2 linked regions of the Homo sapiens genome follow. The protein of the gene in region 1 interacts with the protein of each later gene in a pairwise test. Each region holds a gene or a part of one and is shown on either strand. Other genes may lie near its edges.

Region 1 (3,652 bases):
CATGACCAAACCTGCCTCCTCTCAAAGGCAGTGGCCACAACAGCACATCCAACTTTTATTTAGGAAGACATCTTTGTCTTTTTTCAGAGTGTGAGGAGCACAACAGCCTCAAGGAAATGGTCCTGATGGAGGGGCTGTGCTCTGAGCAGGGACGCCGGGGCTCAACACTGGCTAGTTCCTCTGAGAGGAAGCCCTTGGAGAACCAGCTAGGGAAGCAGGAAGAGTTCCGGGTATATGGAAAGTCAGAAAACATCTTGGTCCTACGAAAGGACATCAAAGATCTGAAGGCCCAGCTGCAGAATGCCAACAAGGTCATTCAAAACCTCAAGAGCCGGGTCCGGTCCCTCTCAGTTACAAGTGATTATTCGTCTAGTCTGGAAAGACCCCGGAAGCTGAGAGCTGTTGGCACCTTGGAGGGGTCTTCACCTCATAGTGTCCCTGATGAGGATGAGGGGTGGCTGTCTGATGGCACTGGGGCTTTCTACTCTCCAGGGCTTCAGGCCAAAAAGGACCTGGAGAGTCTCATCCAGAGAGTATCCCAGCTGGAGGCCCAGCTCCCAAAAAATGGACTAGAAGAGAAGCTGGCTGAGGAGCTGAGATCAGCCTCGTGGCCTGGGTAAGGATGGCACTGTTTGGGTACTTTCTTGATTGAAAATGTGTAAGTTCATGCTTGGCGTAGGGTAGCTCAGGCAGTTGGAAGAAAGAACATGTCTGGGTATTCACAGGGACACTGATTTAAATGGTAGATACAGGTCTGCAGAAAAGACAGGTAGGCAACCAGGAGGGCATAGGATGATGTTCCAGTATCTGGGAGATACCGGGTCTCAGGGATTTCCTCTTAGGGATATATTAGTAAAGATGGTATAGTATAGTAGTAATACTGGAATCAGACTACCTACCTCTGGTGCTTACTACCCATGCAACCTTCTTAACCTTTCTGAGCCTTTGTCCTTACCTATTAAATGAGGATGATAAGAGAACCCATCTCAAAGGGTGGATATTAGGTTTAAATGAATTAATACAACTGCTGACCAGGCGTGGTGGCTCATGCCTGTAATCCCAGCACTTTGGGAGGCCAAGGCAGGTAGAACACCTGAGGTCAGGTGTTCGAGACCAGCCTACCCAACACGGTGAAACCCCATCTCTACTAAAAATACAAAGATTAGCTGGGCATGGTGGTGCACACCTGTAATCCCAGCTATTCGGGAGGCTGAGGCAGGAGAATCGCTTGAACCTGGCAGGTGGAGGTTGCAGTGAGCCGAGATGGCACCACTGCACTCCAGCCTGGGTGACAGAGCAAGAGTCTGTCTCGGAAAAAAAAAAAAAAGAATTAATACAAGTGCTTAGAATAGTGCCTAGCATATGTTAAGCTCTCAATGCTATTTGCCATAGTTATAAGTGTTATTGATACTTAGTGTTGAAAACACAGACATTCATCTTGGTGTGTCCTGGTTATCTATTGCTAAGTAATAACCACTCTAAAACTTAGTGACTTCAAACAACACTTTATTATGCTTCATGGTTCTATGGTTTGACTGGGCTCAGCTGGGTGGTTCTCACTTAGGGTCTCTTGTTTTGGGTCCCATCAGTTGATGGTATGAGCGTTTAAATGATGGCCATCATTGCAAAATGTAGTCAGCCACAGTATCGTAACATAGAAGAAATTCAGGCATCAGGTGGTGGTTAAAACAGAAGGCATGAAAGGTTCTATCTAGACTTAGGATGAAATGATGCTAATTATTCATTGAGTAACTGCTGTGAATCTATGTGATACTGGTGCTGTAAGGGATGTAAAATGCAGAACTATGTTTATTCTCACAGACCTTATGATTTATCTAGGGACATATAATTAACACATGTATAACAGTTGAAGAACAGTGACATACTAAATTTTTTTTTGATACGGAGTCACTCTGTCATCCAGGCTGGAGTGCAGTGGTGCCGTCTTGGCTAACTACAACCTCCACCTCCTAGGTTCAAGCAATTCTCCTGCCTCAGCCTCCCGAGTAGCTGGGATTACAGGCATGTGCCACTATGCTCAGCTCATTTTTTTTGTATTTTTAGTAGAGGCAGGGTTTCACCATATTGGCGAGGCTGGTCTCAAACTCCTGACCTTGTGATCTGCCTGCCTTGGCCTCCCAAAGTGCTGGGATTACAGGCGTGAGCTACCACGCCCGGCCCGTACTAAGTTTTTTAATGCAATACTTTATCAGGGTAGAATTTACTCTTAAATACCTCCTATGGCTTATGTGCCAGAATTCAGCTTGGGGGAGTTCCTTAGAGATGTTCTCATAGAAATCTCTACAGAAGCCCCCATAACTCCATAAGTTAGCTTCCACTCTTTCCATACTTACACTTTCCTCTTCTGTCCTGCATTAGGAAATATGATTCCCTGATTCAGGATCAGGCCCGGGAACTGTCTTACCTACGGCAAAAAATACGAGAAGGGAGAGGTATTTGTTATCTTATCACCCGGCATGCAAAAGATACAGTAAAATCTTTTGAGGATCTCCTAAGGAGCAATGACATTGACTACTACCTGGGACAGAGCTTCCGGGAGCAACTCGCCCAGGGAAGCCAGCTGACAGAGAGGCTCACCAGCAAACTCAGCACCAGTAAGTTGGCCACAGGGCTTTGGAATACTCTCAGTCACCCCCACAGTTCCAGCCCCTGGTGGCCACCACATCTCCACTGCAACTTTTTATCCTAAGGTCCTGTTTCTATTTCATTTCCTGGGGCTAATACAGGATCAAGACTGCTCAGTGGGGAGCATGGAGAGGAAAACACAGGGCTGGAGATGCCATGGTTACAACTATAGAAACTTCACCACTAATGGAATGTGACCTGTGGGGCAGGGGCAGCATCTCTCTGATGCTAAGAGGGAGTAGGGGACATGAGATGGAAGGGCTTTGTTATAGGAGGAAGAGCCCTGAACCAAGAACTACAAGACTCAAGCTCTGGCCTGGATGCTGCCACCAACTCGCTAAATGCCTTATCCTTGTGGTGTCTCCATTTATGGCATGGTAATGTGCATGCAGGTACTCCACATATGGATAAAGCGCCATGCTCTTTTATACATGGTTTAGGCACTGGCTGCAGTAGTTCAAGGGCTACATTGGTTATTATTGGGGTCTTCTACTCAGAATTTCCAGCGACTATCCAAGGGAGTAAAGTAGGATCAGACTTGGGAGCCACCCAGCCCACCACCTGGTGGCAGATGCAGAGGTGGGGCAGGGCTTCTTGTCATCTCCTCAGAGACCAGTGCAGGTTCTGCATGAAAGCTGTGGTGGGGCATATGCATTGGGGAGCTAGTCTGCAGCAGGACATGGAGGCTGGAGTGTCCCGCAGGGCAGCTGGGCAAGGGCCTCATGATTAATGGAACAAAAGACATTATAAATGTTTTACCCTGATTTAGGGCAGAGGAAGTCATCATGGTGACCGGCAGGTCAGGGACAGTGGGGTCACTTCTCTAGAGACACAAGCTGAGGTATCCCAGAATAACTGTTCTGGATGCACACATGAAATGCTCACTACTCTGTCTCCAGATAGGCTCCTGCATTTGTAATGCGGGAAGTGGGACCAGCCTAATTTCTTATCGTCTCTTTCTAAATTTGGTTTACAGAGGATCATAAAAGTGAGAAAGATCAAGCTG
Region 2 (3,596 bases), on another chromosome or scaffold:
TGTGCCTATAGCCCCAGCTACTTGGGAGGCTGAGACAGCAGGACCGCTTGAGCCCAGGAGTTCAAAACCGGACAACATCGTGATATCCTTTTTCAAGAAAAAAAAAAATCACATCTACCTCTAAGGGTTATTGTGATAATTCAGTGGGTTATTATTTGTAATATATAGCATATTTAAACCTTGCCACTGGGACAGGCACAGTGGCTCACACCTGTAATCCCAGCACTTTGGGAAGCCGAGATGGCTCACCTGAATCTAGGAGTTCAAGACCAGCTTGGTCAATATCATTAAGACTCCATCTCTATACAATTTTTTTGTAATAAATTTATATTATATTAAAACACATTTTTTTAAAACCCAAAAGGCTCATAAGGTAAGGTGATTGGCCTTACCTCCTGTCACAGAGCAATCACGTGGGACAGCTCTGGAACTCAGAGCTCTGGGCATCACTCCAGCCATCTCTGCCTGTTGCACCCTTTCAGGCTGCCTGGGCCTGGCTCTGAGATTGGCCAGGGCAGAGGACACGCACGCCCTTCCCTGGCCCAGTCAGCTGCCCACCTAGCTGGGGCCTGGGAGCTGACTCCTGCTGGGTCCTCTCTTGCCCCAGAGCTGGAGATGGCCAAAGCCCGGAACCAACTGGATGCTGTCTTGCAGTGTCTGCTGGAGAAGAGTCACATGGACAGGTAGGCCAGCGTGGGGTCACAGGGCCGGGCACCCTGGTGGGTTGGGCCCTCTGATCCTGGGTGGATTGGGTGGGACCCCACAGGCTGACTTGGGGAGGAAGGTGCTTAATGGGGAGGCTGCTCGGTGCCTTCCTTCTCTGGGGCCCTGGAACCCTGAGCTGAGAGATCTCTTCTGCCTCTAGGGAGCGTCTGGATGAGGAAGCTGGGAAAACACCCTCAGACACCCACAATAAGTGAGTTTTTCTGATTGGATTTGGAGTTGAGAGTTCGTGGTTGGTAACTTCTTTCCTTATCCAAGCCCTGACCGCTCAGCCCAGCGCTACCTCCATCGTGGCCCGGACCACTCCACCTGTACAAAGACCCTGTGGCAGGAGAAGCTTAGGTCCCCCCGTGGTTGCCACCTAGACCCCCATGGGTATGGGTGGGACAAAAGGCCCAAGAGGCAAGTGGGGTTCATGTGAGCATCTCAGGTTTGATACCAGTATCCCCAGGGTGCCCTCTGCAGGGTTTTGCACAGGCGTTTGTCTGAGGGTCAACTGTCTTTCCCCACAGGGACTGCTCCATCGCAGCCACTGGCAAAAGGTAAGGTGGCAGGGTCCCAGCCAGCTGACTAGAGGCTCCCAGCTCCTACCCCAGTCCTGACACTCCCTCTCCCTACGCAGGCCATCTGCCCGCTTCCCCCACCAGCGGAGGAAGAAGAGGAGGGAGATGGATGATGGGCTGGCTGAGGGAGGGCCGCAGCGATCCAGTGAGTAGACAGTGGCCCTAGAGGGTCGGTAAGGAGCCAAGGGCCTATGCAAGGATGCTCACACACCTCCCATCCCCACCTTCCCAGACACATATGTGATCAAGCTGTTCGACCGGAGCGTGGACTTGGCCCAGTTCAGCGAGAACACGCCACTGTACCCAATCTGCCGCGCCTGGATGCGCAACAGCCCCTCTGTGCGCGAGCGTGAATGCTCTCCCAGCTCACCCCTGCCCCCGCTGCCTGAGGATGAGGAGGTGGGATGGGTAGTGGGTCCCAGCCCAGCAGCCTGGTGCCAGGGCAGTGGGTGGATAGGCTCAAAGGATCCTGCCCCTAAGCTAGTGGGATAGACAGACACAGGTCCCTCACGTGAATCCTGGATCAGGCTAGGCACACAGATGTGCACTCTTAGGTTGGGGTGTGGATCAGAGTCCCTAGGGAAGACATACGTAACCACCTGGCCTGGGAGACAGGGAACAGGGTTACCCTGGACAGTTAGATGTGGACCTCCAAGATCAGGGGTTCCCAAGAGCCGAGGGGCTAGACAAGGGTCCTTAGTACAGACAGAAGTGGCCACCAGGCCTTGAGGAGCAGGGGCTGGGCAGGAATGGATGGGAGTCTATAAGCCATCTGACCCAGCGGGGTAGACAAGGGTCCCCAGGACAGACATATAGGACCCTTCAGACATATAGGACTGTCAGAAATGGACAGAGCTTCCTAGGTGGCACAGACGTGACCCCCTAGACAGGATTCCCTGAGGCAGGCAGACGCGACTCCCTGGGCTGACAGGTGTAGATGGAGTCTCTGGGCTGGATAGGAGAAGACAGGGGTCCCTGGGGCAGGCACACTTGACCCGCTGGCTGGTTGAGGTGTCTGCCCTTCATACATGCCTCCTGTCTGAGTCCCTTAGCGAGCCCCTCATGCCATTTGTTGCTGGGAAAGGCAGGAGGGATGAATGTGGATTCCCAGCCCCTCTGCTTTGACTCTCTTGGGCCTGGCATGGGGCCCTTGTGTCCCCAGGGCTCAGAGGTAACCAACAGCAAGAGTCGTGATGTGTACAAGCTGCCGCCACCCACACCCCCGGGGCCACCCGGAGATGCCTGCAGATCCCGCATCCCATCTCCACTGCAGCCTGAGATGCAGGGCACCCCTGACGATGAGGTGAGTATGCCAGGCTGGCCCAGGGTTATGGGGCACATGCGGTAGGGCTCAGGAATGGCCACTCAACCTGGCCTGTCTGTCCATGCAGCCCTCTGAGCCCGAGCCCTCACCCTCCACACTCATCTATCGCAACATGCAGCGCTGGAAACGCATCCGCCAGAGGTGAGCGTCCCCCAGCCTGCTTGCCCCTCGTAGGGCCCTTTGCAACTGCTGAGTCTCCCCTCTGCCTCCCCAGGTGGAAGGAGGCCTCTCATCGGAACCAGCTTCGTTACTCAGAAAGCATGAAGATCCTACGAGAGATGTACGAACGACAGTGATGTTCCCAGGTCCCCCCACACCAGTAAACATCCCCCAGCTCCACACTGGTGTCTGCTCCGGTCCCTCCTTCCTGGCCCAGGCACAAAGCAGTTGGCAGAGCTCTAGCACATTTATTGGGAGAGTAAGCCTGGGAAAGACTAAGGGAGTGGTGGCAGGGAGAAAGGCTGTGGGGAATCAGAGCGGGTGCTCAGTTGGGTCTTGAAGGAGAAGAGGAGGAGGGTGGGAGGTGGGTTGCCGAGGATATCTGGTTGAAGACTTGGGGGTCAAGACAAAGGGACTTAGGGGGATGGGGTCTGGTTAGAGTTGGGGAGGGGGCCTAGGACATCCGTGCAGAGTCTGGGGAGGTTGGGGTGGGAGAGTCTGTACAGTTTGGTGTTGGGTGTTCTAGTTGGCCTGGTGTCCAAGAGTTGGGGCAGTCGAAAAAGGGTTCCAGAGTCTGGTGTGGCTGGCTGGGGTTTCACGGCAGAAAATGGGCTGGAGGGGGCAGTTGTAGACTGTCTGGTTGCAGGGGAAGGATCGGGTCTTGGGAACCAGGCCTGGATGGTCTGGAGTGGGAGGTCTGTGCAGTCCAGGACGTTTGGGGGGTGGGGGGATTGTGCCTGACTGGCCTGGGGTTGGGGGAGGGCTGTCTACACCATAATTTGGTGTCAAAATAGGGAAGGGATGGAAATGTAGTACCCGGATGTCTT

Evidence for each region. The genes of interacting proteins can lie anywhere in the genome.
Region 2: the proteins of PDE4DIP (region 1) and LIN37 interact in binary tests that used the Homo sapiens proteins (3 or more experiments, as listed by UniProt).

The regions. Positions count from the first base shown.
Region 1 is NC_000001.11:149,004,822-149,008,473, forward strand, and holds part of PDE4DIP (myomegalin), read left to right. Parts: intron 1-87; coding exon 88-616; intron 617-2,379; coding exon 2,380-2,615; intron 2,616-3,622; coding exon 3,623-3,652. UniProt on the Homo sapiens protein: Functions as an anchor sequestering components of the cAMP-dependent pathway to Golgi and/or centrosomes.
Region 2 is NC_000019.10:35,751,569-35,755,164, forward strand, and holds the end of LIN37 (protein lin-37 homolog), read left to right. Parts: intron 1-607; coding exon 608-683; intron 684-865; coding exon 866-916; intron 917-1,235; coding exon 1,236-1,265; intron 1,266-1,345; coding exon 1,346-1,431; intron 1,432-1,518; coding exon 1,519-1,685; intron 1,686-2,448; coding exon 2,449-2,589; intron 2,590-2,677; coding exon 2,678-2,751; intron 2,752-2,824; coding exon 2,825-2,906; 3' UTR 2,907-2,951; downstream 2,952-3,596.